Homo sapiens: one gene and its partners. The protein of the gene in region 2 interacts with the protein of the main gene of each other region in a pairwise test. Each region holds a gene or a part of one and is shown on either strand. Other genes may lie near its edges.

Region 1 (5,790 bases), about 17 Mb from region 2:
AAGAACACAAGCCAGAGGAGCATCTGTGACCTGTGCTTTTCCAAAGAGGGTTTGGGAACTTTAATATTTAAAGAGTAAAGTGCAAACACGGAGAAGGAAAAGAGGATAGAGGGTAGGCAGTGAGGCAAATGGTTCTATTCAGGGGAGGCTTTGGTTAGTGTTCAGTAAATCCAAATTTTATAGGTAAAAAGAGGGAGTAAAGGAAAAGTCAATTATGTGTTCATTGCAGGGTAGACAGCACGATGATTTCTGGTCTTGCCCGCGTCCTGTGCCTATGAAGACAAGCTGGTAATTGACATCATCAGGGTGAAATTCAACATAACTCAGTTTTAGGGCTATTTTATAGGAGGGATATGTATCCTAAAAGATAGGGTCTCACAAGGATTTTCCTTGGGCACAATTGTGAGGGAGGTCATTTGGGGAGATATGTGGCCTTCTATCATTGTGGGAACCTGGTTTATGGATGAGGCTATCACACAAGATTGTGAAGTTACGGCTGTTAGGGAACAAAAGGAAGGCAATATTGAGTAATTCAGCTCTGAAGCTTAACTTGCCCTTTGGCATAGTGAGCTTGGGGTCTTGAAATTCTATTTGCTTTCACAGTTGTAACAAATGTACTACTTTAGTGTGGGATGTTGAATGGGGGAGGCTATCATGTATGGAGAAGTTATATGTGAACTCTCCATACTTTTTGTTCAATTTTGATGGGAACCTAAAACTGCCCTAAAAAAAATAAAGTTTAGTAATTTTAAAAAAAGAACTAGACTAGAACACGCTCTGAGACTGCCCTCTTGGGGTTACGTGTGAAAACAAACCTCTCCAAGAAAGAGAACACAGGGCCGGAGGGCCTGGCATTCAGTAGGGATCTGCAGTCCGTCCACCACATGCTAGCAACTGCACATTTCATGAAGAAGCTCAACAAGGAAGAAAAAAAGGAACTAAAGAAGCCTCATCAATTAAAAAGAGGGATTTGGACAAAGAAAATCCATGCAGGTGCCAACGCAGAAATAGTATTTTCGTTGATGAAGATTTTTAACTTACCAAGAGCTATGAGATAGCTACCACTTTTTGAATAAGCTTTAAAAGAAATAGATGGACACTTGCAGAATATAAATCTTTTGTGTTCTATAAGCCTCCATTTAAAAATAAAAATAACTTCAAACATATCCTAAGTAATGAAAGCAGGGACATGAAGAAACATTTGTACACCCATATTTATAGAAGCATTATTCACTATATCCAAAAAGTGGAAGCAAACCAAGTAGCCAGTGATGGATGAATGGGTGAGGAAAAATGTGGTACATATTTATAGAGTGGTCCCCCTATCCAAGGTTTTGCTCTCTGTGGTTTCAGTTACCTGTGGCACAGTATAATGAGATATTTTGAGAAAGAGAGAGACCACATTTGTATCGCTCGTGTCATAATATATTGTTATAATTGTTCTATTTTATGATTATTGTTGTTAATCTATTACTGTGCTTAATTTATAAATTAAATGTTATCATATGTATGTGTGTATGTATAGGAATAAACACAGTAATCAGGTTCAGTGCTATCAGTGATTTCAGGCATCCATTGGGGGTCTTGGAACATATTCCCCAAGGATAAGGGGGGACTACTCTATAATGAATATTATTCAACCTTAAGAAGGAAGAAAATTGACCCATGTTGCAACATGGATGAGGCTTGAAGACATTATGCTAGATGAAATAAGCACAAAAATACAAATACTGTATGATCCCACTCCTAGGTCCTTCGAGTAGTCAAAATCAGAGACAGAAAGTAAAATGGTGGTTGCCAGGCATTAGAGGAAAGATAAATGCGGGATTATTGACTAACGGGTAAAAAGAGTTTCAGTTTTGCAAGAAAAAAATTCTGTGGAAGGATGATGGTGATATTTGCACAACCATGTGAATGTACCTAATGACACTGAACTGAACTTTAAAATGGTTAAAATGGAAAATTTTATGTTATGTATATTTTACCATAGTTTAAACAGATAACTAAAAATGTGTGTTCTAATTCATGTGAATTCTCAAAAGAGGCTATATCTAAAAGACAGATTCGTGTTTCATGTTCCATGAAGCTTAGAAATTGGAGTGAGAGACTGATGAAACATGACAAGTGAACGCATCTGAAAACAACAAAGTTTCACACAAATGTATGGATTTTATTGACAAGTGATATTTTCTTACAGTAATAAATATAATGCAGTCTTCTTAAGAGTCAGTTTGGAGTTGAGAAGGCAGTGTACCCTTGATGGAAACAGTCAGACTGGTGGTACCATCTTCTTCAGAACTGCATCTAAGAGGCTGTGCTGGCTGGGAATCATACAGCTGTGGGCAACAACTGCATCAGCCCCAAGGCTTCCCTCCAGACCAAAAGGTGATTCATGGCCCCTGGTTAATATCACCCTAGGTTCTCCCCTGTCCCAGTTTTAACATAATATTTCATAGAAATACTAGTGCCATAAAAAGTCAATATTTCAAATATAAAAATTATTTTATACAAATGTAATTCATAATCATTCTTTTAAAATACAGCATTGTTATATATGTTTGAAACATTATTAAAATAAATATTTCCTAGAGAAAAAATTTTGCTTCACAAAATTATAAAACAGAAGCATATAAAACTAATTCATGATTGGTGCTTCTTCAGTGTGTCTCTCATTCTCTCTTAGTGTAGACAGCATGAAGTACATACATCTAGCCTGAAAACATACCACCATCAACCTATACATCTAAATGCTTGGACTTCATGTGTGTCTACCCACAGTGCCCATGGCCTATCTACTTACACACCCTCTACCTGGAGCTTCTGTGGAAAGAAGGGCTGTCCTGTGACAATTTGCACTAACATACTTTTCCAGCTAAACTCTAGTTCAAAGGTCTGTGAGCTTGTCACTTTCTGGAGTTGGGAAAAGGCATATCAACTTCTTCATCAAGGGAACCATCCTGTCCCCTGTGAAAGATTATAACAGCCCTTTCCCAGGTAAGGGATGTATTGTGATTATCTGAAATATTGAGATTTTTGGTAGACCTGGACAATACTAACCCTGATTTCCAGGATCTGGAAGTTCTCTTTCCTGACTGCTCACTAGATGTTGAATGGGGCATATTTTGATGTGCAGTCTTGTGGTTCCTGTGGTATTCTAATACTTGCTTGGAAATGAGATAGTTGGAATGCTTAGCAAACAATATAGTTGTGTTTCTAAACATCATGGGGAGAGGAGAGAAAAAGGAATACAAGCTTATATAAACCGCTGAAGTTTCCAGTTATCATTACTTAATCATAACCCTAAGAAGTATGATTTCAGTTCTTCTCCAACACTACAAATTAACGAGTTTCACTAGACAATAAGCTGATCAACTAGGCTGATTGACATTTAGAGCTGCCTTTCCAATTACTAGCACATGGCAAGGGTTTTCAGGAAAATCTGGCTTGCAAAACACAAGTGGTAAATCTTCAAGGATTTGAAGTACCTTTCACACAATTTGACTATTGCCAGGAAGCCATTTATCAAGACCCATATCAGTGTCCTCAATTCCCCTTACCAAATGTTTCTTTTTTAAAAAAAAACTTAATTCATCCTTGTTTTCTGAGGCAGAGGTAACTGTTCCACGAGCTCCAATTCCATGAGGTGACTGTCCCACGAGCTCCAATTCCATGAGCAAATGTCCCATGTCAACATTTATGCTGCTCTCTAAAGCCTTGTATCTTGCACCTCTTCTTCTGTCTCCTCTTTCAGAGCAGCAATCTGGGGCTTAGACTTGCACTTGCTTGAGTTCCGGTGGGGAAAGAGCTTCACCCTGTCGGAGGGGCTGATGGCTTGCCGGAAGAGGCTCCTCTCGTTCAGCAGTTTCTGGATGGAATCGTACTGCCGCACTTTGTTCTCTTCTATGACCTAGGGAAATGGCTGTTAGTGAGATCTGGGACAGAAGGCAGGTCAGACCAGAGCAGGGACAGAAACTGGCACAGGCTCAAAGGAAAATAAAAGTCAAAGAATGCAATGTCCAGAGCCTTGCATTTTGAACAATCAGGTATGTCACATTTAACTGCTGTGTCCTTTTGCTCTAAGGAGGTTCTACCATCTGTGAAATTAGTTGTGATTTTCTACTCAGCAGCTGGAAGATTCTTCAGGGAGGTTTAGTAGAACTGAAGTTGCTTTGAAAACAAAATATTAGGTCCCTTATAAATTACCTAGAAAATGAGCGTAAGTCTACAGCACCATAAAGAGTTGAGCCTCTTCCACAGTGATCTGAAGCTTAAGAATTCCAAATTGGTCAGGATGTGCCTGAGTTTAATACACCTCCTTGGCTTGTTCAGGTTGAGCAAATCCAAGATCAGACAATAGAGGACTTTACTTAGATTCTTGAACTTGTCCATGGCAGGGCAAGAGGTTGTGAGTCTGCCCCCCTAATTTGTTACTTCAAGCTTAGTGATAATCATGGTAATAACAAGCCTTCAGTAAGGAAACCATTTACCTCCAGGAGGCTCAAAAGCCTGAACAGAAATGACGTGATACATCATCCTCAGAACTTCCTTGTGACTAAACCATAGGGAATTTGTAAACATCACTTGAAAGAAGCTGTGACAGTTTTGTTTTGTTTTAATAAAGACAGATGGGGCCTCACTATGTTGCCTGGGCTGGTCTTGAATTCCTGGCCTCAAGTAATCCCCCCACCTCAGCCTCCCAAAGTATTGGGATTACAGATGTAAGCCACTGTGCCTGGCCATGTGACAGTTTTTTTAAGAACAGTGAGAAGGTGGTTGAGAAAGGTACTACCTGAACCCAAATCATGGCTAGAAAAATGAAATGTGCCTCTCAACTTTGTCATTAATACCATAAATCAGACTGTAAGACAACTAGGCCTGTCCCAGACCACATCCATGGGACATTTAGTTATTGAAAGAATCACAGGGACCTTTTTTAAAATCTTAAACAGTAGAGTATTTTGTATGACTTGGTCCCCAAATAAAGGGCTCAAAAAGTATATATATCCTATTTATAAACATAACTTAGTAATATGCTGCCATTTTAGATTTACTATATTTCAACCTCACCACATGGCTCAGATCAAAGTGAAAAACTTGTGCAGCTATTTTGAGTAAAGCTGGATGGCTGTATGATACATATTTTTGAAAAGAACTTGTACATTGTTGCAATTTGCAGGAACTATCACATGTGAGATTGTTATCAAGAATTACAAGGGCAATGAGATCTTAAGTAAAGTTATAAAGACTCACCAAAAATTGTTGGCATTCCAGCATTGCTTCTATCCTGTGTTCACAGAGAATTACTGTGCAATCAGCAAATGCTTGTTTTAGAGTTCTTCTAATTATTTGGTATGTTCTAGAAAAGAAAGAAAATACCACACATAATATCACAGAACAGTAATGATCTGTATTTACCTTGATAATATGTCTATTGTTCTATTATCTCTTTAAATTACTTATTTCTTTAAGTTCTTTTCACATAATGTTGATATAGCGTTAGCCACAATCAGCTTTTCAACCATGGGGTAGACTCTAAGTATCCATAAATAAACAGGACAAATATTTCAAAGAAACTTTAATAAATGAGTACATTTTTCATTATGTAGAATCACCAGTACTTCTTTATTTGGGGCTATAAACATGCTTATGGTATAAATGGGATACAAAGGCAAATCATAAGGATCAGATTAGGCCCATGTATTTAAAAGCTTCATCATGTGTTGACAAGGGGGAAGAGTTTGTATGAAACTAAAAACTATCTTCGGAAGAAAACACAAGACTCTTAGCAAG
Region 2 (9,580 bases):
CCTCGCGGGTCTTGAGGCTGTAGATGGAGCAGATGTTGTCCAACCCCCCACAGGCCACAAAGTTCCCTGAGGGCGCGTAGGCACAGGTCATTACCCAGGAGGAGCGCAGCGGGATGGCGTGGACCTGCGGAGCAGGGGAAGCGCCGGGGTCAGAGCCAGCCAGGGCCCTGTGGCCCTGCCCCACCCCGCAGCCCGCGCCACCCTACCTTGTTGGTGGTGTAGCTGTCCCAGATGATGAGCTTCCCATCCTGGGAGGCGCTGACCAGCAGCCTGGTGGGGAACGGTGTAGGGAGAGCAGAAGGGTGGCGTGAAAACAAGACACACCCCCTTCCCTTTGGGTGGGAGAAGGTAGGGTCTCTCTCTGTTGTGCAGGCTGGAGTGCAGTGGCACCATCACAGCTCACTGCAGCCTGGAACTCCTAGGCTCAAGTGATCCTCCCACCTCAGCCTCCCCCGCATAGCTGGGACTACAAGGTGAGCACCACCACACCCAGCTCATTTTTCAATTTTTAGTAGAGCCAGGGTCTCACTATGTTGCCCAGGCTGGTCTCAAACTCCTGAGCTCAAGTGATCCTGCCCTGGCCTCCCCACGTGCTGGGATTACAGGCGTGAGCCACCTGAGAGACAGTCTCCAGCTGCAGCCCACAAGTTCTCACCAGCATGGTCCTGCCTGTCCAGGTCTGGCGGACATGTCTGGGAGTCACCGTTTTTCCAGACGTACGCTGGGTATTTTGGTGGCCTGCTTACTCCGCCAGATCTGAGGCTGCTCCCACGGCCTGCTAGAAAGTCGGCCCACAGCGCCAGCCCGCGCACACACACACACCTTGAGTCGGTCCCCCAGTGCATGGCATAGATCTTTGCCAGGTGCCCACGGAGGGTCCTCCGGGTCCTCATCTGGATTCTCCCCACTGGGTCCAGCCCAGCTGTGATCTGGAGGTAGAGACAGAATGCGCTCGGGGAGGCCCAGGCAGCAGGACTGCAGAGGGCAGCGGCCTCTGATCCTTGCCCCTTCAACCCCTAGTTACGCTCTGGCCACCAAGTGCCCTCACCTGGGTCAGTGTTGAGTCCCCACATGCTTTTCGGGCATCCTGTAAGGGATGGCAGAGCCAGAGAGACGCGAGAGAAGACAGGTTGGGGAGGAAAGGGAGAGAAGAGAACAGAAGACAGGAGTGGACAGGGTCAGATTCTGAGCCATTAAGGGGCCCTCCCTCCCCCTTCCCCCACCAACACCCTCACCCAACCCGGTCCAGGGCACCGGGCGGTGTACACATGAATCGCCCGCCCCGCACCAGGCCCTCACCCGGATCTGGTTCCGGAGCTGCTCGGCCTCCTGTCTCAGTTGCTCCAGCTCACTCATGGCGCCGGGCCCGTGGGGCAGGGTTGGGGGCGGCTGGGGGCCGCGGGACGGGGGCTGGGGGAGGCAGCTCCTGGCCGCTGGCCCGAGGCCTGGGGGATGCAGGGCTGACGTCAGGCCCGAGGCCGCCGGGGAAGTGGGGAGAAAGGCGGGGTTGCAGCGCGGCCCGGAAGGGGTAAGCAAGGGGAGGGGGAAGGGGCGGCGCGGCCGCCGTCCCCGGGCACAACCAGGGTCTCCGGCACCAGAGACGTCGCCGAGTAAGAGCCGACTTCCCCAATCTTCCTCCCGCCCCCCGGAAACGGAGCGGGAAGTGCAAGAGGAAGCGCAGGGGAAACCCCTCCCTCGGACACAGCCCGGGCAGGACACCCGCGGCAGGAACTGGGGCGGGGGGGGCGGGGGTGTCCCTTCGAAAACAGACCTGGCTTCTGCCCCAGCCCGCACAGGCACCGCCCTCCAAGCACCTAATTTTAAAAGGGGCGGTGCCTCTTGAAATTCACCCCACAAGGCGCACACCCTCCACACACACCCCCAGCTTCGATGGTGGCGGGTGGGGGGAGAGACCAGAGGGGAAAGCTGGGCTGTTCGTGGGGTTGCCTAGGCAACCGTCACCCGGACCGAGAGCACCTCATTGGTGAAATGCCCCCACCCTAGCCCCGTTGCCAAGGCAACCGCATCCACGGCAGAGACCTGTAGGGTGGGTGACCCCACCCCCGGCCCCATCGCCCCCGCCCGACCCAGCCTCCCGCCCTCCCCAGAACCGGCCCGGGTGGCTGTTTACAGGATTTGGGAAAAGCCGATTGGGCGCTAATAGGTTCTGGACGGCTCACCCCGGATAATCCCCGGTCCGGCTGCGCCCCATTAGCCGTCCGCCGCGGGTGGGGGTGACAGCGGCGGGGAAGGCAGCCCCGAGCCGCTGCTCCCTCCAGCGCAGGGACCGCCCGCCCCGCCGCGCCCGCAGAAAGCCCGTGGGAGCCGCTCTCGAGTAATTACGGCTCCGCAACGAGGTCCCCGGCCCCGAGGCGCGGAGGTGCTCTCTCCCAGGCGCGGGCGGGCGGCCCCAGGCGGCCTGGCCGCGGCGCCCTGGACACCCGGGGGGCCCAGCCCGCAGGCTCGGCGCCCGGGCCCCAGGGGCCCGGCTGGCTCCGCTCCGGGAGCCTGAGTCCTTCCCCGCCCGCGGGACACCTGTGCGATCCGGCCGTACACACTGCACTTGGCCGGCCCAGGCGTCCCCCACCCAGCTCCCACTTCCCCCAGGCGCAGGGCGTTCCTCTTCCCCACTGACATTTCCCCTCCTTGTAAGTTCAGCTTTCTACGCCAGTGCCAAGGGGTGACCCTCAAAATCGGGGGATGGGGGGTGCGGGCAGAACTCCTTACTCTACCCAACCCCCAGGCCCGCACAAAGCCTCTTCCACCTACTAGCAGCCCAGGCCTGGCGGCACCGCCGGAGGCCCAGGGCAGAAGGAAGCACGGCTGGAGGAAGAAACTGGGGGCGGGGGCGACGTTCTCAGCCCTCGGTCCCCATCACCCCCCAGGGCCCTCAGCAGCCCCCAGACTCTAGGGATATAGCAGCCGGCGCTCCATAGAGAAATGAGGGTGCAACCGCCTCCGCAGGTCTGGCGGGGCTCAGGAGAGTGACGGGAGGGTCCCTGGATCTGGCAGCTGGAAGGCGCGGGCTGGTGCGGCGCTGCGAAGCGCAGTGGGCCTGGCCCTCCAGCCCCTACGACCTCCATTTTGCCTAAAAGAAAGCTGGGCGGGGGGCGGGCGCCTGGGAGCTGGGCTTGGGGTGAGGATCTGTAAAGGGAATAGGGCGCCGAGGGCTCCAGTTTCGGCGAGTGGGGCCAGAAACCACGGGCAGCACCCAAATCGTGGGTAGGGTGGAGACGAAAGGAAGGGTGGCGCGCGGCCTTGCCTGCTTCTCCCCGATTTTGGAGTTGTGCAAGGCGAGGGCCGGCAGGGGTGCGACAGTGGAGGACACGAGGGGTGCTCCCCGGGGGCAGGCGGGAGGGTGGCGGTGGGGAAAGGGGGCGGGGCGGGGCCTAGAGGAAGCCCGGAATTTAGCCCCCCAACTTCCGAGGGAGCAAGAGGCAGTCGGGGCTGGGCTGGGGTCTGGGGTCGGGCAAAAACTTCGCTGATGGTGCGGGGAAGCGCACGCACGGTGGGGGGCGAGGGTTCCCCAGTTCCCCTTCCGGGTTTGGGAGCGACCGGGCAAGAGGGGAAGGGAGCGGAGGTCTGGGGAGTTACGTCCGCTCCCAGGAGGCCAGCCCCGGGAGACCGAAGGAAGAGAGGTTCCCCTGGGGGAAATTGGGGCTGGGGGGCGAGAGGACTCCTTTTGCCAGCGAAGGTACCTGTGGCGGTGGGACTCTGCGGCGGAGGTCGCTGGCGGTGCGCGGGCGGCGCTGTCTTCCTCCGCGGCGGAGGCGGCGGCGGCGGCGGCGGCGGCGGCGGCGGCGGCGCGGATGGATTTCCTCAGTGGCCCCAGCCCCGCCGCCAGCGCTGCCTCCCCAGAGCGGAGGGATCCCGCCCGCCAGTGACGCGGCTGCCGCCGCCGCGCCCAGGACCCGGCTGGGCGAGACCAACTGCCTCGCACTTGGGGGAAGCCAGGAGACAAAACCCCACCGAGGGAGCAAAGACGGGCCCAGTCGCTCCCAAGGTTCTCACCCTACGCTTTGTGGACGCAAACCGTACTCAAAGGGTTTGCTTCACGGAAAGGAGTAAGACATCCCCCCTCTGGGACTGGAGGAGGTGGTACTGGCATATGAGGAGGGTGAGACCGCTCGCTGGTCACGTGATCAGCCTCCCGCCCCGCCTGGAATGGGTGGCTCCAGACTGGGAAGGGGAGTTCGACGCCCCAGTTCCCGGTTGGGCCACGCCCCGGCCCTGAGGAGGCCACGCCCCTCACCAGGGGGCGGAGCTAAAGAGACCTGGACGGGGCCGGCCTCGAGGCTGCTGGAAGAAGAAGCGCGATTCCGAGAAAGTCCCCGAGCGGGAGTGGGTAGGGGCTGATGCGGGCGCCCCGGGAATGCCATGAGAAGGGTCGTGTCCAGGCATTTCCTCAGCCTCGCCCACTGGGCCTTTGTAGACCCCCTTTCAGGGCTTGCCACTGAAATAACAACTCATTTATTGAGAGCCACACTTTTTTTTTTTGAGACGGAGTCTCTCTCTGTCGCCCAGGCTGGAGTGCTATCTCAACTCACTGCAACCTCCGCCGCCCGGGTGCAAGCGATTCTCCTGCCTCAGCCTCCTGAGTAGCTGGGACTACAGGCGTGTGCCACCACACCCGGCTAATTTTTTGTATTTTTAGTAGAGACGGGGTTTCACGGTGTTAGCCAGGATGGTCTCCATCTCCTGACCTCGTGATCTGCCTGTCTCGGCCTCCCAAAGTGCTGGGATTACAGGCGTGAGCCACCGCGCCTGGCCCGACACTTATTTTTTAATTGGAGTACAGTGACGCGATTGTAGGTCACTGCCACCTCAATCTCCTCGGCTCAAGTGATCTTCCTGCCTCAGCCTCCCTAGTACCTGGGACCACAGGCGTGCCCCAGCCACCATGCCCAGCTAATTTTTAAATTTTTGGTAGAGGTGGGGTCTTGCTATGCTGCCCAGGCTGACATATGTTAAGTCTCACAATACTGGGAAATTAAGTGCTAACATTCTCCCCATTTTCTTTTCTTTTCTTTTTTTTTTTTTTGGAGACAGGGTCTCACTCTGTCGCCCAGGCTGAAGTGCAGTGGCATGATCTCGGCTCACTGCAACCTCCGCCTCCTGGGTTCAGGCGATTCTCCTGCCTCAGCCTCTGGAGTAGGTGGGATTACAGGCGCCCGCCACCATGCCCAGCTAATTTTTTTTTGTATTTTTAGTAGAGACGAGGTTTCACCATGTCGGCCAGGCTGGTCTCAAACTCCTGACCTCAGGTGATGTGCCCGTCTCGGCCTCCCAAAGTGCTGGGATTACAGGCGTGAGCCACCGCGCCCAGCCTTCTCCCCATTTTCTAATAGTGGAAAGAGACCTGAGGCTGCAGAGTTTAGATATGAACCCAGGCAGCCAAAACTTTACTGTACATTCCAGTTTATCTGTATGAGCCTCTAGATGAACCCCTTCCTCCAGGGACCTTGCCTGTAAAGGGACAAGAACGTAGGTCTAGGCCTCAGTTTCCACATCTGTTAAATGGGGATGTTGACAGCATCTGCCCTCCAAGTCCCGGATTCTTACTGAGAACCCCATCGATTGTGGAAATGCTTTGGGAAGTTCAAGGCAACGAATAGCCTTCACTGAGTCCTTGTAATTTGAAAGTATCAAAACACGCAGCCATAAGAAAGAACGAGATGGGGCTCACGCCTGTAATCCTAGCACTGTGAGAGGCCGAGGCGGGTGGATCACTTGAGGTCAGGAGTTTGAGACAAGCCTGGCCAATATGGTGAAACCCCGTCTCTGCTAAAAATACAAACATTAGCTGGGCGTGGTGGCACACACCTGTAATCCCAGCTACTCAGGAGGCTGAGGCAGGAGAATTGCTTGAACCCGGGAGGCGGAGGTTGCAGTGAGCCAAAATCACACCACTCACTGCACTCCGGCCTGGGCAACAGAGCAAGACTTTGACTCAAGAAGAAGAAAGAAAGACAAAAGAAGAAAAAGTAAAAGAAAGAAAAGGAGGGAAGGAAGGGAAGGAAAGAAAAAAAGAAAGGAAAGAGAAAGGAAGAGAGAAAAAAGAAGAAATCATGTCCTTTGCAGCAACATGGATGCAGAAAAGAGAGAGAGAGAGAAAGAGAAAGAAAAGAGAGAAGGAAGGAAGGGAAAGAAAGAAAGAAGAAACAAAAGAAAAGAAAAGAAGAAGAAATCGTGTCCTTTGCAGTAACATGGATGCAGCTAGAGGCTTTTATCCTAAGTGGATAAATTTCTGCAGGAACAGAAAACCAAACACTGCATGTTCTCACTTATAAGTAGGAGCTAAACACTGGGTACTCATGAACATAAAGATGGGAACAATAGACACGGGGGATTACTAGAGGGGGGAAGGGTTGAAAAACTACCTATTGGGTACTGTACCCCAGGTGACGGGATCAATTGTACCCCAAACTTCAGCATCACAAGATATACCCATGTACATGGGTACATTCATGTGCACATGAGTCAGAATCTAAAAAGATGAAATTATATTTTAAAAAGTATCAAAACATACTCTTCATTTAGTCTCTGTGAAAGACATTACAAATCACTTTTCAAAAACAATTGTTTTTTCTTTTTTCTTTTTTTTTTTTTTCTGAAATGGAGTCTTGCTCTGTCACCCAGAGCTGGAGTGCAATGGCACAATCTCGGCTTACTGCAACCTCTGCCTCTTGGGTTCAAGCGATTCTCCTGTCTCAGCCTCCCGAGTAGCTGGGATTATAGGAGCATGCCACCAGGCCTGGCTAATTTTTGCATTTTTAGCAGAGATGGGGTTTCATGTTGGCCAGGTTGGTCTTGAACTCCTGACCTCGTGATCTGCCCGCCTCGGCCTCCCAAAGTGCTGGGATTACAGATGTCAGCCACCGTGCCCAGCCTACAATTGTTTTTTCCAAATCGAATATGTTATGAACATAGTAGTTGTCTTTGTAATGGGTACACACACTCACACACACAGAATGATCTGCCTGGTGGGGCAGGGAATTGTAAACATGCCAAAGGGAAAATGAAAAAAGAATCCTGTAGGTTTTCATTATTTTAGGCAATTATGTCCATATCACTTACAAAGCTATTGCCAAATCTGTCTAAGGAAGCAGAGTTTGAAGGTGGGCCGGGGGGGACATCTGGGAGAAATTCGAAAATGGCATAACAGAGCTCTCAATATGAGAAACAAAAGCCCAATATTTTTTTAAAGAAAATATAAACAATCGTATTCGTAGTTAGATGCAAATTCTATTTATGCATACCTGCCAATTCAGTGACATATAAGCAATAGATAACAGATGTCAACTACACATGAGAATTTGGGAGGGACCTCAGAGATAATTACGTTGATTTCCTCAATCTGTAGATGGCCACGATGACTTCCCTAAAGTCACTTAACAACAAGCAGCGCAGGACTACAGCACAATTTTGTCAATCTCAAGAGGGCATGTGTGCTGCTTTGGTTTCTGTGCTAATAAGCTTTCCTGTTTTAACTCATTCCGTTGATATTTACTGAACCGGATGATGTATCAGGCACTGCCCTAGGCAATGAGGATGCAACCTTGAATGACAGGTGCACCCTCCTCATGGAGCTTGCAATCTATAGAGGAGGCAGATGGGCATTGAAATATGGATTAGGGTCAGGCGTGGTGGCTCACACCTGTAATCCCAGCATTTTGGGAGGCAGAGGTGGGCGGATCACTTGAGTCCAGGAGTTCAAGACCAGCCTGGGCAACATAGCAAGACTACGTCGTTAAAAAAAAAAGAGAGAGAAAGAAAGAAATACATGGTGGCGTGCGCCTGTAGTCCCAGCTACTCGGAAGGCTGAGGTGGGAAGATGACTTGAACTCCTGAGGCAAAGGTTGTGGTGAGCTGAATTTCTGCCACCGCACTCCAGCCTGGGTGACAGAGCCAGGCCCTGTCTCAAAACAAAACAAAACAAAACAAACAAACAAAAATGAAAAAATAACAGTGCTTGGCCTGGAGGTATTGTTTACTTCGAGCAGAACATTTGAGATGGAACATATTCTGGGAGGAAGATCAAGAGTTTAAGATTGGGAAGTTTTAGGTTTGAAGTGCCTATGGAGAAAATTTTTTTTGGTGTTTTTGGTTTTGTTTTTTTTGAGACAGGGTCTCACTCTGTCACCAAGACTGGAGTGCAGTGGCGCAATCACAGCTTGCTGCAGCCTCGACCTCCTGGGCTGAGATGATCCTCTCACCTCAGCCTCCCCAGTAGATGGAACTACTGGTGCACACCACCATGCCTGGCTAATTTTTTGTATTTTTTTTTGTAGAGACAGGGTTTTGTCATGTTGCCCAGGCTGGTCTCGAACTCCTGGCCTCAAGCGATCCGCCAGCCTCAGCCTCCCAAAGTGCTGGGATTACCGGTGTGAGCCACCGCACTCAGCCGGATCTCGCTCTGTCGCCCAGGCTGTAGTGCAGTGGCGCAATCTCGGCCCACTGCAACCTCTGCCTCCTGGGTTCAAGTGATTTTCCTGCCTCAGCCTCCTGAGTAGCTGCGACTACAGATACGTGCCACCAGGCCCGGCTAATTTTTTGTATTTTTAGTAGAGACGGGGTTTCACCGTGTTAGCAAGGATGGTCTCGATCTCCTTACCTCGTGATCCACCTGCCTCAGCCTCCCAAAGTGCTGGGATTACAGGCGTGAGCCACTGTGCCCGGCCTCTTTTTTTGTTTTTTTTAACTTTTATTTTAGATTCACGGGGTACGTGTGCAGGTTTGTTATATGGGTAAATTGTGTGACACTGAGGTTTGGAATACGATTGATCCCATCACCCATGTAATGAGCACGGTACCCAATAGGTAGTTTTTCTTTTTCTTTTTTTCTTTGAGACAGGGTCTTGCTCTGTTGCCCAGGCTGGAGTGCAATGGCACGATCTCAGCTCACTGCAACCTCCGCCTCCTGGGTTCAAGTGGTTCGTCTGCCTCAGCCTCCCAAGTAGCTAGGATTACAGGTGTGCACCACCACACCTGGCTAATTTTTGTATTTTAAGTAGAGATGGGGTTTCGCCATGATAGCCAGGCTGGTCTTGAACTCCTGGCCTCAAGTGATCTACCTGCCTTGGCCTCCCAAAGTGCTGGGATTACAGGCGTGAGCCACCATGCCTGGCCCCATTAGGTATTAATAGTTTTCAACCCTTGCCCCATCTTCTTCCTTCTTCCCCCTAGTGGTCCCCAGTGTCTATTGATGCCGTCTTTATGTCCATGAGTACCCAATGTTTAGCTCCTGTTTACAAGTGAGAACATATGGTATTTGGTTTTCTGTTCCTGCTCTAAATTCACTTAAGAGAATGGACTCCAGCTGCATCCATGTTGCTGCAAAAAACATGTTTCTTTGTTTCTTCATTTTGTTTCTTTTTATGGCTGCATAGTATTCCATAACATACATGTACCATTTTCTTTATCCAGTCCACCATTGATGGGCACCTAAGCTGAGTTCATGTCTTTGCTCTTGTGAATAGTGCTGCAAGGAACATACGAGTGCATATTTCTTTCTGGTAGAAGGATTTTTTTTCTTTTGGGTAAATACCCAGTAATGAGATTGCTGGGTCAAACTGTAGTT
Region 3 (7,193 bases), on a different chromosome or scaffold from region 2:
ACTGCAGTCTCTGCCTCCTGGGTTGAAGCAATTCTCCTGCCTCAGCCTCCTGAATAGCTGAGGCTATGGGCATGCACCACAATGCCTGGCTGATTTTTATATTTTTAGTTGAGATGAGGTTTCGCCACGTTGGGCAGGCTGCTCTTGAACTCCCAACGTGAAGTGGTCCACCAGCCTTGGCCTCCCAAAATGCTGGGATTACAGGTGAACCACCGTGCCCGGTTTGTTTTGAGGAAGGGTCTCCCTCTCTCACCCAGGCTGGAGTGCAGTGGTACGATCATAGCTCACTGCAGCGTCAACCTGCCCATCTCAAGTGACCCTCACACTTCCGCCTCCGAAGAGCTGAGATTACAGGCGCACACTACCATGCCTGGCTAATTTTTTTCTTTTCTTTTCTTTTCTTTTCTTTGAGACAGAGTCTCGCTCTGTCACCCAGGCTGGAGTGCAGTGGCAGGATCTCAGCTCACTGAAACCTCTGTGTCCCAGGTTCAAGAGATTCTCCTGCCTCAGCCTTCCAAGTAGCTGGGATTACAGACATGCACCACCACGTCCAGCTAATTTTTGTATTTTTAGTAGAGACAGGGTTTCACCATGTTGGCCAGGCTGGTCTTGAACTCCTGACCTCAGGTGACCTGCCCGCCTTGGCCTCCCAAAGTGCTAGGATTACAGGCGTGAGCCACCCCACCCAACCTTGTTTAGTGTTTTAACGGAGGTTTCATTACATGGGCATATTAGACAAATCATTGACCATTGGTCATTGACCTCAACCTTCAGCCCCTCTCTTCCCAGAGGTTGGTAGGTATGGGTGGGGCTGAAATTCCCAACTGTCTAATTCGGTCTTGGTATTTCTAGTGACCAACCCCCTTCCTGAAGCTACGCAGGGGCCCATCACAGATGGCTTCATTAGGACAAAGACTGCTCCTATTAATACCCAGGAGATTCCAAGGGATTGAGGAACTCTGTCAGGGCTAAGGGCAAATATTATTTTTATTATGCACTTCGCTAAATTATTTCAGTGGGTTCCGAGGCCCAGGATGCAGGCACCTTCCTTCAGCAAGGACTGTTTGCTTCCCTCATGCAGAAATGGTTGACGATAAACGCAGAGCTTAAGATTTCTTGGATGGCCAGTGATGTGAATTTGATCTGAAAATCTGAAGGGTTTCTTCCCTTGTCTTTCCTTCGCTCCCTGCACTGCTAGAGGTAGAGAGGAGTGCAGACTTTTGGTTCCTTTTCTCCCTTAGCTTGGGAGATTGTCACTGGAGGCAAGGGCTCAAGGAAGGGTCAGACCCCTTTCAGAGGCTGAGCCGTTTCAACCTCAGCTGTTTTATTAGAATAGGCAAATTCTTTCAGGACAAAAGCAGCCTTTGAGTTTTCCACTCTCCTATGGGTCAGAACTTGTAGATTTTTATTGTAAATGTATTTTACTTTTTGTAGAGATGGGATCTCACTGTGTTGCCCACGTTCGTCTTTAACTCCTGGCCTCAAGTGATCCTTTCACCTCCTAAAGTTGGGATTACAGGCGTGAGCCATTGCGCCTGGCCTATTTTTAATTTTTTTAAAATTAATGAGACATTGGTCTAAATAACCTAAACGCATTAATAGAATGGGAAGTTTCCCCACCCCCTGGTGTGCACACCCAGGTTAATCCCTTCCCCTTGAGGGCAGAAACTAAGACTAAGCTGGGATCTTACCCCTGTGATTTAGTCATTATCACTTAAGTATCTGGATGGGCCTGACCTAATCCGGTGAGCACCTCAAAGGGAATGGGCCCTTAAATCAGACCTGCCAGGGCCCAAGGAGGGGCAGCTTCTTGGAGCTAAGACCCTAGTTCTACGAGGACTGAAATCAGCCAACAACCATGAGCATGGAAGAGGACCCAGACTAAGGAACACCAACAACCAATACCTCAATTTTAGCCTGCAAAGCACTGAGCAGAGACTAGCTCAGCCGTGTCCAGACTTCCAACACAAAGTCTGAAGTGGGTGTTGTTTTAAGCCGCTGGCTTTGTGATCTGTTGTGCAGAAATACATGTGGGAACAGGCTTTGCTGCCCACAAGGGAAAAACCAATCTTTAGCACAAAGCAGGATCAGATGATTCAAGGGGACCGAACCTTGGCCCAGTCCAGAACCAGACAGACGAGGCGAGCCTCATGCCAGACTGCTGGCACCTGGCCGTCCTGAGCAGGAACACCACTGCCACACCAACGTGGCCATTATTCTAGAGGGAGAAGTATAGGGCAGTGCCGCTCAGGCCACCAGGAGCAGCTCCAGGTCCTCGCCCCATTTTAGATTGGAAATCTGACTCCAAAGAGGGGTTGTGACCGCTCTACCTCCACAGAACAAAGAGGTGGACCCAAACCTCAAACAGCAAGGCTGGTGAGCTAGATGGACCCACTGCTGCAGTCCATGAGGCTTTACAAGGACCCAGGGCCTGTGCAGGGGAGCCAAACTCCCAGAGCCACATGGCACCATGCAGCGGTCCTGGGGCATCTGTGAGACACAGAAGCTGCTTTTCCAACTTTATTTAGAAAAACAAATCCAGGTCCCAGTGCCCCCTGTACCCTCCCCGACCCCAGCCATAATTTAAATAACTTAGAGACAGAGTTGGAGGGAGGGGACAGGAGAGGTTGGGGTCACGGTGGAAGGAGGAAGAGAGCCCACTACAGCCGCCGCAGCGCCCGCTTCTTGTCCGTCTTTTTCTTGGCCGCCAGCTTCTTATCGCGCTCGCCAGCATGCTTCTTGGCCATGGGACCCTCAGCCCCTCCCGGGCCCCCTGGGGCCCCAGGGTCGGTGGAGGAAGCTTCAGTGCCACTGGCCAGGGCCCGACCGGCTTCGGCCCTGCCGCTGGGCCCGCCGGCGCCCCCGTGGATCTCTGTGAGCAGACGGGCCCGAGCCGCATACTCCTCGTAGTTCTCCAAGAGCAGGCGGCCCGCCTCCTCGTTGAGTGCAGACTCGGGGTTAGGGTGGATCAGCAGGCACTTGATGGTCTGTGGGAAGAGGCTCAGGGTCACAGTGGGTCGGGCAACCTACAGGGACCCCCAGGCCTCCACAAGAGGGTGGCCTCCGCACTGGCTGTTCCTTCTGCTCCCAACTCAGCTGCAGATCCAGGCCCCACCTATGCTGCATCCTCCCTCATCTTTGCTCCTGTCTCCCTCAGAGGCCACCTTCATGTGACCTGCCTCACAGCAGATGTTCCCAAAAGGACACGATGCCATAGGCCCAATGGTTTAAAATGTCCCTGGTCCTCCGTGGAACTTGCTGGGTAACGGGGGAAACGCCAAGGCCCCCTCTCAGGAGTCCATTACTTGCCTGAGCCCCAGACTTGAGTCCTATTATGGTTTTGAATTTGCCTCCATGCAGTTCAGCATGACCTTAGAGGCCCTCTGGTTCAACGAGTGAGGCCTGCAGCCTGGACAGAGAGAAGAGACTTCCCCAGGGCCTCAGGATTTGAGGAAATCACACCTGCGTGTTGGACTCTAAAGCTCCCCATCTTTCCAGATACAGCATAAATCCTGACCTCTGTCTTTTATCAGACATCCGAAGTTCACAGCCTAAGACTCTAGCTGGGTTGGACCACACACAAGAGGGCAAGACACCAGGACTGCTGGCTGAGGTGCACTTCGAGGGTGGTCCAGAGATTCCTCTCAACCCCCTTCACAGCCCGTCCTGAGGGGTAAATTGGAGTGCAGAGGTGTGACCTGCAGCCAGGCCTCCAGCAGCCCCAGCTGGATCCTCTGAAGTGGGTCTGGGCAAACTGGCCACAGCAGTTTGCTCCCTGGGGCCACTATGACACATACACAGTACCTGGCTCAGCAGATGCTCAGCAGATATCACTGATGGTGACCAGGACACAGGTTCCCACCCTAATTCTCATCACTGCACCCAAACTGCAGGTCTGGCTGCTCTTCTTGCTGGCTGAGCCCCTGACAGGCCCAGATGCTGACCTAGCAGCAAGTAGGCCTGGAGCTCGGTGCCAATGTCCCCAGCAGCCTCCAATGACACCCCAGGGGAAGGGAGGCGGTACATGTGGGAGGGAAGGGTTTGGGGTCTGTTTACCTTGGAGCTCAATCCTCTCCCTCCCCATGGCAGGAAACCCCAATTCCCCACCCTCTCTGCCATGTGCCCCAGGGACTCATTAGAAATTTGGTTAACTTTTTTTTTTTTCAGCTTGCGGGAAGGGTTGGGAGGCAGCAGGCTGTAAGCAGCCTGGAGCACCAGCCTAGACCAGGACGCCTCCACCTCAGCAACACCGCAGCCAGGTCATTCTGTGTCATGGAGCCATCTCGTACGCTGCAGGATTTGGGCAGCACCCTTGGCCTCCACCCACTAGATGCTAGTGGCACCCCCGAGTTGTGACAACCCTTTCTGGTCTCCTGACAATGCATAATACCCCTTGGGGGGCAAAATCACCTCTGGCTGAGAAACACTGGTTTATGAACCCTATCGCTATTAAAAAACCACTGAACTGTATACTTTGGAACTGAGTTTTACGGCATGTAAGCTCAGCTTTAGCAAAAAAGCCTCTAATGAGACCCCATCTCTGCAAACCATAAAAATATAAAAACTAGCTGGGTATGGTGGTGCATGCGTGTAATACCAGCCATTCAGGAAGCTGAGGCAGGAAGATCACCTGAGCCCAGGAGTTCAAGGCTACAGTGAGCTATGACTGCGCCACTGCACTCCAGCCTGGGCAACAAAGAGCCAGTATCTTTAAAACAAAAAGAAAGAAAGGAAAGAAAGGGAAGAAAGAAAAAGGAAAGAAAGAAGAAAGAAAAGAAAGAAAGAGCTTCTAACTAGACCCTTGACCTCCACCTGTCAGAAAACTGTCCTACAGGGTAGGCGCAGTGGCTGGCTCCTATAAGCCCAGCACTTTGGGAGGCCGAGGTGGGAGGATCACTTGAGTTCAGGAGTTTGACACCAGCCTGGGCAACAAATGAGACCCCATTCCTGTTTTATTTTTTATCTTATTTTTTTTTTTTTTTTGAGATAGAGTCTCACTCTGTCACCCAGGCTGGAGTGCAGTGGCGCGATCTCGGCTCACTGCAACCTCTGCCTCCCAGGCTCAAGCGATTCTCCTGCCTCAGCCTCCCAAGTAGCTGGGATTACAGGCATGTGCCACCATGCCCGGCTAATTTTTGCATTTTTAGTAGAGACAGGGTTTCACCATGTTGGCCAGGCTGGTCTCGAACTCCTGAGCTCAAGTGATCCACCACACCTGGCCTACCCTATCCTTGTTTTTTAAAAAAAAGGGAGAAGAGAAAAACCATCCTACAATACAAACTCACCACTCGTTGCATAGTAAGGTGCTCCTGGGCACTTCTCAACAGTACTTGGGTGTCCTGGGTCTGGCACTGTTTGTCTTTCCAGGAAAGCTAGCAACATGGATTTTTATGTGGAAACCTTCAACCACTTCAGAGTTGATTCAGAAAAACTAAACAAAGCGCTATGGCTCAGACACCAGCAGACCTCCAGAGGCAGGAGGCAGGAGGCCCAGCCCCAGCCCAGAACTCACCAGCAGTACGTGTCGGATGCCCAGCTCAGCCGTCCAGTCCCTCTTGAGCACGTTGACGCAGATCTCGCCATTGGCGCCCACGTTCGGGTGGAAGATCTTGGTCAGGAAGTAGCCCTTGGGTGGGGAGGCAGGGAAGTCCTTCCCCAGCAGGAGTTTCATGCGGAACAGACCTCCAGCATATGGGGTCCCCTCTGGAGTGGAGGGAGGGGTACAGGGTCAGGGCACTCAGGAGTCCCAAGGCACCTCAACACCCCAAAGTCCAGTCTCCACGGTCTGATTGTGATGCAGGTGGGTGCCCCGCCAACTCTGCCAACAGACTGGAGGATTCTTTTTTTCTTTTTTTGAAATAAGGTCTCTTGTGTCACCCAGGCTGGAGTGCAGTGGCACAATCTCAGTTCACTGCCGCCTGCAATTCCTGGGCTCAGGTGATCCCATCTCAGCCTGCCAAGTAGCTGGGATTACGGGCATGCCACCAGGTCTGGCTACTTTTTTATTTTAAGAGATAGGGTCTCACTATGTTGCCCAAGCTGGTCTTGCACTCCTAGGCTCAAGCAATTTGTTCACCTCAGCCTCCCAAAGTGCTGGGATTACAGGCGTGAACCACCATGCCCAGTCAGGCTGTAGAATTCTTAAGAGCAAGAGGCCAGGTGTGGTGGCTCACGCCTGTAATCCCAGCACTTTGGGAGGCTAAGGCGGGTGGATCACCTGAGGTCAGGAGTTCAAGACCAGCCAGACCAACATGGAGAAACCCCGTCTCTACTAAAAATACAATATTAGCCAGGCGTGGTGGTGCATGCCTGTAATCCCAGCTACTCGGAAGGCTGAGGCAGAAGAATCCCTTGAACCCGGGATGGGGAGGTTGCAGTGTGCGGAGATCGCGCCACTGCACTCCAGCCTGGGCAACAAGAGCGAAACTCTGTTTCCAAAAAAAAAAAAAAAAAGCCAAGCGCGGTGCCTCACACCTGTAATCCCAGCACTTTGGGAGGCTGAGGCGGGCGGATCACAAGGTCAGGAGTTCGAGACCAGCCTGGCCAACATGGTGAAACCCCATCTCTACTAAAAATACAAAAAATTAGCTGGGCATGGTGGTGCACGTCTGTAATCCCAGCTACTTGGGAGGCTGAGGCAGGAGAACTGCTTGAACCCAGGAGGCAGAGGTTGCAGTGAGCAGAGATTGTGCTATTGCACTCCAGCCTAGGCGACAGAGCAAGACTCCGTTTAGAGAGAGAAAAAAAAAAGAGCAAGAATGGCTGGGTTCCTAGGGGGCCACAGGACCTCCCCCAAAACCTCAGAGATGATGCCCATCTTGCAGCCCCCACCTGTGTCACTATCAAGCTCGTCTGCACCCTCCTGGATCCCCCGTCTCAGCCCAACTGACCACTCCAGTCACAGGCCCTTCCCAGGTGGCAGGGACCCAAGTACGCACTTTCCTATAAGATGCCCATTTATATGCCTTTCAGATCAAGGATCCAACTGTCTGTTAATTCCACAGCCTCCCAACCCAGTGAACGCCTCTCCCACTCACCCACTTGCTTGGGTCAAAATACTGTCCCTCCCCTAGCCCATCAGCAGCCTGAGCACCGGCCTGCTAGGTCCTCCCCTGAATCTCATCCCATCTCCAAGGCTAGCTTCCTGGCTGGCCTCTGGGTTCTTCCCCCTGCCAGGCCGGCTCTCCTCACTA
Region 4 (8,649 bases), on a different chromosome or scaffold from region 2:
TACGGTATAAAACTGTGATAGATCAAAAAGCAAGTTACAAGTTCCTTTCTGTAACTTGTTCCTTCCTAGCATATACATTTACATTGAATTTAAATTAAGATTATAAAAATTTTAGTTGATGGTGGTTAGTGTATTTAAAATTCAAAATATTTTAACCAACATTTCAAGTACACTTCCCTTGAATAACAGTGTGATAATTGAAAATGTATCTAATTTGTTATCAAGAAAGAAGTAGTTAGTCATTATGGTCTCAACTTGTATTGCCCATCACTGTAGGCACAGTCACAGGTGGTTATTTACATTTAAAATAATTAAAATTAAATAAAATTAAAAATTCAGCTCCCTAGTCACAGTGGTAACATTTCAAGTGCTCAGTAGCCACATATGACTAGTAGGTACTGTATTGAACGGTGAGATATATTGGACATTTCCATCAATGCAGAAAGTGCTACTGCGCAGCACTGACCTTCAAAGGAATACTGAATAGCTATTAAAATATTGATTATAACCATATGGAAGTTACTTGAGAGACAATGTTAAGTGAAAAAGAAACAGGCTGTATAGTTTACATACTCACGTGCCACATAACAATGTTTCACTCAACAACAGACGGCATATATCATGGTGGTCCCATAAGATAATAATACCAAATTTTTACTGTACTTTTTCTATATTTAGATACACAAATATTTACCATTGTGTTACAATGGCCTATAGTGTTTAGTACAGTAACATGTTGTATAGGTTTGTAGCCTAGGAGCAACAGGCTATAACATAGCCTTCGTATGTATTAAGCTATACCATCTTGGTTTGTGTAAGTACGCTCCATGATTTTCAAACAACGATGAAATGTGTAACAACTCATTTCTCAGAATGTATCCTTGTTGCTAAGCACATGGCAATATACATACCATAATAGCAATAATGTAAAAATTCAGGTTCATTCATTCATTCATTTTATTTAATATCTACCAAATGTCAGCATTGTCTTTGGTATGCTCCAGGAAATCAAGGATGAATTAGACCTGTTTCCTGATTTTGGGGAGCTTGCAGTCCAATAGGGGAAGACAGATAAGTAAGCAGTGTGTGCTTTATAGTATTAGTGTTCTAACAGAAATCTGCTCAGGGTACTGTTGGGTGTGTAGCAAAGGAAGCTCCCCCAAAACCAAAGCTATTAATTCTCCCTAGGAAAATAAATCAGAAAAGGTATCCTAGAGGACGATTCATTTGTTCCAACTCTTACAACAACATGAACAACTGCTTGCTGGACAGACTGAGGAAGAGAAGAGGAGAAAATGAGTTGCCAGGCAGAGGGGAACTGGAGACTGACCATTTCTAAGGTAACTTTAGAACTCTATGAATGTTTTTTTTATCTGAATTGACCCAAGCAATGTGAGTGCAGAAAAGCATGAAGATATAAGTATGAGCAGGATTGCCTGGTGTGTTAGGGAGAGTCTAGGTGTGAGGATTAGATATGCAACAGAACTAGAGCTTACACCTGTGGAGAAGGTGGGATCCACTGAAAGATTTTAAACTGAAAAACAGGAGAAAAGAGCAGAAAGCTCTTTCCTAGTAACAGTAAAGTTAAGGGTTTTCTTTATAATTGTCAGTGATTTTCTTTTCCTTCCCATTATCTTAAAAATCTTTTGTAATGTGGGCATATTTGTTTTATTAATGTTTTCGAAAAATAAAAAGACAAAATTGTGTTATCTACTGGCTTTCCATGATATATTTGGCAACACTTTGGTGTCACTTTGCATTACTCTTTAATAGTAAGAACAATCATAATGTTAACTAACTAGAGGTTCAGCATCCTAAATCTGAAAATCTGAAATCCTAAATACCCCAGAATTCAAAACTTTTTGAGGACCGACATGATGTGCAAAGGAAATGCTCACTGGAGTATTTCAGATTTCAAATTTTCAAATTTGGGATGCTCAAATGGTAAGTATATGTAATGCAAATATTCAAAAATTGGAAAAATTTCCAATTCCTAAGCATTTCAGATAAGAAATACTCGACCTGTATTAACTATTGAGTTATTTTCTTGGACCAGGCACAGTTCCGAATTCTTTACACACATTAATTAATTTCCTCCTCACAGGTTACATGAGGTAACAACAGCCCCATTTTACTGATGAAGAAATTGAGACATTGAGAAGTGGAAAAATTTGTCCAATGATAGATACAAAGGTATCAAGTGGCAGAACCAGGATGTGAAGCCAAGCAAGCTAACTCAGAGCCCCACATTTTCCTTTTATCAAATTATTCTGCAATTCAAAATTTTCACCAGTTCATTCTGGTTTGCCCTTACTCATTACATTTTGGGATCATTTTGCTATTCTTAGGGCAGACTCTAGTTTAGGTGGATGAGATCAGAATATGTCTCAGTTTAAAGGAATCCAAAGGATTAACCCCAGATTTCTGCATATCACACTCACTCACTCCCTTAAATTTTTTGCTCAAATGTCTCCTTCCTAGAACACAACCTCACACAAGTAGATCCTCAATACATATTTGTAGAATGAATGAATGAACTGAACATTGAATCTTTCCTAAAGATTATATTTTACTTAGTATGCTAAGATGACTAGCCAGGAAAGTATTATTTTATTTATTTTCAAATACAAGAAATAGAAGAAATGCAATTTATATTATAATTCTATATTTAAAAACTCAATTATGCCAGAGTATTTTATATTCCAAGTATTCTAGATAATCAAAATGTAATTATTTATCTTCAGATATTATTGGTGATAAGTAGGTCATGGATAGATTATTGCTAAGCTAGCTCTAAGAGGTCAAAGCAAGTTCACTGAAATAATTCATTTTAGCATTAGATGAGAAAGGAGGCATTTTTAAGGACCAGAAATAACACAACACTGGGTGGATGTGGTGGCTCTTGCCTGTAATTCCAGCATTTTGGGAGGCTGAGGTGGGAGGATTGCTTGAGCCCAGGAGTTTGAGGCCAACCTGAGCAACATAGTGAGACCCCGTCTCTACAGAAAATTTAAAAAATTAGCCATCCATGGTAGGGCATGCCGGTGGTCCCAGCTACTTGAGGGGCTGAGGTGGGAGGATCACTTGAGCCCAGGAGGTTGAGGCTGCAGTGAGCCAGGATTGTGCCGTTGCACTCTAGCCTGGGTGACAGAGCAAGATCCTGTCTCAAAAAGAAAAAAAGAAAAGAAAAGAAATAGCACAACACTGAGGTATGCTTCTAAGGACCATGGGTCCAGTGGGTAAAGGTGGCATCTGAGAAACAGGCATCTGAGGAGAGGAGAAAATCCTTGGTATAAATTGTTCACTGGGTTTGATGTGAACACTATTGGGACAGAAAGTAGCTAACTAGCACTGTCAGAAACAAAAAACAAAAGTGAACATTTTAAGTTGTAGTCATTCGATCCACCTCTCTCAGGAAGGCAAGGTCCATAAATGAAGAAAGATCTAAAAGGCTTGCTCAACATCAGGAAGTGAAGTTAGGAACCAAAAGAAAACCTAAGGTTATATTTTCAGAATTGAAACCATCTAAATAATTATTTTATTCTTTTATAAGATATGCATTCTTTGGTCTTGAGGGGCCTTAACTATCAATTTCACTTTAAATAATAGTTTTTATAATTTAAGTAAGTTCCACTTTGTAGCCTTCATATAGAAGTATGGATTTAAATAAACTTCTCAAATTCTTTAAACACTTAAATATGCATTGTATATTTTAATCCTTGTAGTTTGAATAATTAGGGTAATTAAAAGTATTAAAGAGAGGATTATATGAAATCCATTCTTACCTGTAGGGCAAGTAAGATGCTGCTCAATGTATAGTTTGTATTCCACTTCTCAGGGTTGTCCAAAAAGTCTATACAGGGCTGACCAGTGTGTGGGTCTACTGTATTAAAATAATACATTAATATTTGCATTTATAATAAATTATTATTTAAAACTTACAAACATCAAAATGATAAGCCAGAAAAATTATCTGCATTTACTCTTCCTTTTTCCTAGTTCTTCTCTCTGTACTGAGAAGCACTATACCCATCCCTGGTTCCCACCCATTACCATGTTGTTTTAGCTGAATACATAGGTGCCCCTACAGTTTTTCCTATCCTCTCCTTTAGCAAGATGTGGCCTTGTGACTAAGTTTTTGTTGTGGGACATAAGGATAAGTGTGCAATTTCTGAGTCTTTTTTTAAAGGAAGCTGGCTTTCCTTCTTTTCTTCCCCCTTCCCCCAGACTGGAAATGGTGACAAACAGTAAATGCCTTAGTCCCAGAAATGGAATCTTCACATTGAGGATGGGCACAACCTCCCTCCAGCGTTGTCCTGTTATGTTAAGTTGGAAAGATGTACAGGAGCTTGGCATATGCCCTAACACAGTTAAGTAATTTAGTGTTTGAAAAAATAATAGAGTTAAATAAGAAAAATAAAACTGTAGAATGACTAGAAGAAACTTAAAATGACTATTTGATTTTCTTTTGGGAAAGGATCATCTAAGATGAAAGACAACTGCAAAAGCCTCAAAGGACAAGATTAATAGATCTTAAATATAAATTTATTTTAAATCATAAAAATCTCTAAATCCCAGATGTGAAAAAACAGCATAAACAAAGTTGAAAATTAATGACAAATTAGAGGAAATATTTGCAACATCTAGGACAATGTGATAGCACTGTCAATTGTATCATACGAGTCACAAAATAAGAATCAACAAAGGTGGGAAATGTTTACTTCTCAAGTATTCAAAGAAGTGCTTATTAAAATAATAGCAAGACTCTTACCAAATTGGCAAAAAAATTTTCTTCAAAGTTTCAATGGCCAGAATTGGAAGGTGCTAAAATAAGAACTTTATATGTACTTTTTGGTAGGAGTACAAATACCACCGAAAGGCAATTTGGCTTTTTATATAAAGACTTAAAACTGTACATAGCCATCTTTTGCGGGGCGGGCGGGGGCGGGGGTTGAAAGCTAGTAAATAACCCTTCTCTCCCCTCAAGTTCATATGTAATTATAAAATAGATCAAAGTATTGAAAGGTGGAAGTAAAAACATCAGCTTCATTGCACATAAGACTGAAATGGAGAACGCACTTGATGAATGGCTTTAATCAGGCTCCACAAAAGTCCCCCTGATTTAAACTTAACTCCCAAACCGAAGGCCTGCCTAAGTTTCCTGCCTGGAGCAAAAGAGACTATACCCAGTATGGTCAGAAGGAGAGAGTGTTGAGCAAGTTCTGGGCCACATATGCTCAATTCTTTCCTTCATCTCCCTAATCAGATAAGTGACTTCTAGGAGGAGTGATGGGGGAAAAAAAAAGAGCAGTCACAAGTTTTCCTATACCTTCCCCCTCCTAGAGACTAAAGTTCCCTCTACTTTATGGAAGTGGGAGGGATGAGGACTAGGGGATAAGAGTACCTCCCCCCATTGAATTTAATCCAATAATTCTAACTATTTTAAACAAATAAAGGCACACGTATGTAATTAATTTTGTGTTATAGATACCAAAAATAGGTTTTAATTACAATAAAATAATGTACTTGGGAAAAAAACATAAAAAATCTAATGTAAAATATGAATGTTCCCCTGCCTACTAATTCTACTATTCAAGACCAATATTACCAGTTGGTCTATACAAATATACACACAAACACATATATGTATACACACCCATATGTGTGTGTTTATTAAATGGGAATATATTTTACATTTTATTGTTCAATGTATTTTTTCACTTAACAATGTATTTTCAACATATTTCTGGACACAAATATTTATTCAAAAAATATCTGAATACCTACTATATGCCACGCAGTGAAGATTCTAAGGATATAGCAATGATCTAGACCTAAAAGGTTCGTAGACCTTCCTCGTTCTGTTTAGAAGCAATACACGTAACTGTAGGATATTTCACTTAAAATTCCTGTGTTAATGGAGATTGAAGTTATTTCCATTTTTCCTATTTCTAACATTGCTGTTGGGAATAAACATCTTTTTTTTTTTTTTTTTTTTTTTTTTTTTTTTTTTTTTTTTTTGAGACAGCGTCTTGTTCTGTTGCCCAGGCTGGAGTGCAATGGCACAATCATGGCTCACTGCAGCCTCGACCTCCTGGGCTCAAGCAATCCTCCTACCTCAGACCTGAAGTAGCTGGGACTACAGGCACATGCTACCATGCCAAGCTAATTTTTTTATTTTCTGTAGAGACAGGTCTCACTATGTTGCCCAGGCTGGTGTCAAACTCCTGGACCCAAGCAATACTCCCCACTGACCACCCAAAGTACTGGGATAACAGGCATAAGCCACTGAGCCTGGTGGGAATAAACGTCTTTAAATATAACACACTCTTGCACACTTGTGCTAATATTTCTACAGAATAGTTTATAAACATGGTATTACGGGAATTTAGGGATATATGCATTTTATACCTGATTAGAAACTGTCACACTACTTCCTCAAAAGGTCATGATTATATCAGAGGAACAATGTCTGCCCATGCCTACTAAATATGTATGTTATATTTTGACATTTTATGAATATGTGATAAATAACAATACTTTTTGTTTTAATTTGCTTTTATTTTCTTAGTAGTGAGATTGATAATCTTTTTATGTTTATTTTTGTTGTTTATTCTGTCCAGTGTTTGTTTATAGCCTTTCTCCATTTTTTAATTGCTTTATGTTCTTTTTATATTGATTGACAAGTGTTCTTCATATGGTATACATATTCTGTTACATGCATTGCAAATATTTTCCCTCAGTTTGCAAAAGTCAGTGTCTTTGACCTCTGAGTATAATGTCCTGGGCCGTAGAGAAGTTTTAACAGGTTTTGCAGTTTAATGTGTCATATTTTCCATACAGTTACTGGGTTTTATCATGCTGAGAAACGTCTTCCTCACCAAGCCCATAAAAATTCTATTAGATTTCCTTCTTTTCCAGCATTTAAAATTTTTAGATTTTTGATCCTTCAGGAATTGGTTTTGTGTATAACTTTAAGTAGCAATCTAACTTACCTTTTATTTAAAAAAAGTTAATCTGTCCAGTGCATCGTTTTTTTATAATAATGAAAAATTAGATCCAACTAAAATATTGAACAATACAGAAATGGTTAAGTGTATTGTTGAACCATTTAAGATGATCTTTTGAAGACTGTTTAATAATGCAGAAAAAAGACATATAGTTTTAAAATTAAAAACCTAGGCCAGGCGCAGTGGTTCACAGCTGTAATCCCAGCATTTTGGGAGGCCAAAGTGGGCGGATGGTCAGGAGTTCAAGACCAGCTTGGCCAACATGGTGAAACCCCATCTCTGCTAAAAATACAAAAACTAGCCAGGTGTGGTGGCGCATGCCTGTAGTCCCAGCTACTGGGGAGGCTGAGGCAGGAGAATCGATTGAACCTGGGAGGTGAAGGTTGCAGTGAGCCGAGATCACACCACTGCATTCCAGCCTGGGCGACAGAGAGAGACTCTGTCTCAAAAAAAACACCATAAAATAAATAAAATCAAAAACCTAGAGGCAAAACTTCATGCATAATACCTCAACTGTATAGAAAAAATTCATACTTAGAAAAAAGGAAAATAAATTTGGCAAAATGTTGACAGTATTTTCTCTTTGCATTAGGATTTAAGGTGATTGCTAATTTTTTCCAGCCTTTTCATATTTTCCCCAATGAGAGTTCTTACTTTTAGAATCATAATAAAGTTCTTAAAAAGAAACATGATTATTATAAGAAACAAGGATAATAGGGACAAAGCCTCTAATGATAAAAATGTCATTTAGTTCTTACCATTTGGATGAAACGGAATTGTTATAAATTTCACAACTGGAGGAGCATAGTTGTACTCCGATGTAAAATGTATTGTCAGTTGGAAGACTAAACCTATAATATAGAAATAAACATTTTTACTAAAGTGTCATGTTTATTGATTAACTGTAACCTGATTAACACTGGAGTTTCTCCCTATGGTTTAGTCTTTCCACAGTTTTATTTTTAAGTAAATTGATTCATAGAGTGCACCGACTCCTCTGGATAGTATAACAGACACTTCACAATCTATTATAATCATACGTTTTCAGTCTCTTTCCCACTAGTCCTTTCCATCTACTACCTTTGTCGCCCTAACATCCACCCCCTCTGTTGTATCTCGTATTGACTGAACTCATGTTCCCAAAATCTGCTACACCCTTTCTTGTCTACAAGTCTTTGCTGTGCTGTTTACTCTGCCCGAATTTCCTTATCCTTCTTCTGAACCTGGCAGATTCTTCAGGACTCAACTCAAATGTGATCTCCTTGGGAAGACATTCCTGACTCCCTCAGGCATAATTAACTAATCCTCTTCCTCTTTAGCATTCTGTTCAAAATCCATAATAATGTATATTTTATTGTAATTATCAGCTGATGTGTTTGTCTCCCCTACCTCACTCAAGGAATCTATCTTATTAATCCATAATTGAAAGAAAACATGAGCATTAAAGTTTATAGTGGCTTAGTGTTCTTGAGATTTTTTGATTTATGAAAATTTGGGGGAAAATCATAAAGGAAAAAATGAGAAGTAACTGTGGGGTTTTGAAGCCAATAGGAATTTTGATAGTTATTCCCTGATCTCACGGAAGGCAGACGATATTCTCTCAATTGATATGCTCTATTGTGTCTGCTTCTTAAAAATG

Evidence for each region.
Region 1: the proteins of GNB2 (region 2) and CFTR interact in binary tests that used the Homo sapiens proteins (3 or more experiments, as listed by UniProt).
Region 3: the proteins of GNB2 (region 2) and UBE2S interact in binary tests that used the Homo sapiens proteins (3 or more experiments, as listed by UniProt).
Region 4: the proteins of GNB2 (region 2) and UBE2U interact in binary tests that used the Homo sapiens proteins (3 or more experiments, as listed by UniProt).

The regions. Positions count from the first base shown.
Region 1 is NC_000007.14:117,665,025-117,670,814, reverse strand, and holds the end of CFTR (cystic fibrosis transmembrane conductance regulator), read right to left. Parts: intron 5,357-5,790; coding exon 5,251-5,356; intron 3,908-5,250; coding exon 3,707-3,907; 3' UTR 2,150-3,706; downstream 1-2,149. UniProt on the Homo sapiens protein: Epithelial ion channel that plays an important role in the regulation of epithelial ion and water transport and fluid homeostasis. Mediates the transport of chloride ions across the cell membrane.
Region 2 is NC_000007.14:100,668,042-100,677,621, reverse strand, and holds the start of GNB2 (guanine nucleotide-binding protein G(I)/G(S)/G(T) subunit beta-2), read right to left. Parts: upstream 3,883-9,580; 5' UTR 3,699-3,882; intron 1,446-3,698; 5' UTR 1,357-1,445; coding exon 1,300-1,356; intron 1,088-1,299; coding exon 1,049-1,087; intron 930-1,048; coding exon 823-929; intron 271-822; coding exon 207-270; intron 125-206; coding exon 1-124. UniProt on the Homo sapiens protein: Guanine nucleotide-binding proteins (G proteins) are involved as a modulator or transducer in various transmembrane signaling systems.
Region 3 is NC_000019.10:55,398,776-55,405,968, forward strand, and holds the end of UBE2S (ubiquitin-conjugating enzyme E2 S), read right to left. Parts: intron 5,704-7,193; coding exon 5,513-5,703; intron 5,373-5,512; coding exon of another isoform or gene 5,226-5,372; exon of another isoform or gene 5,188-5,225; intron 4,568-5,187; exon of another isoform or gene 4,357-4,567; coding exon of another isoform or gene 4,168-4,356; intron 3,883-4,167; exon of another isoform or gene 3,815-3,882; intron 2,988-3,814; coding exon 2,661-2,987; 3' UTR 970-2,660; downstream 1-969. Other genes in the region: RPL28 (large ribosomal subunit protein eL28), read left to right, coding at 4,168-4,356. UniProt on the Homo sapiens protein: Accepts ubiquitin from the E1 complex and catalyzes its covalent attachment to other proteins. Catalyzes 'Lys-11'-linked polyubiquitination.
Region 4 is NC_000001.11:64,205,976-64,214,624, reverse strand, and holds part of UBE2U (ubiquitin-conjugating enzyme E2 U), read right to left. Parts: intron 7,862-8,649; coding exon 7,769-7,861; intron 3,884-7,768; coding exon 3,786-3,883; intron 1-3,785. UniProt on the Homo sapiens protein: Catalyzes the covalent attachment of ubiquitin to other proteins.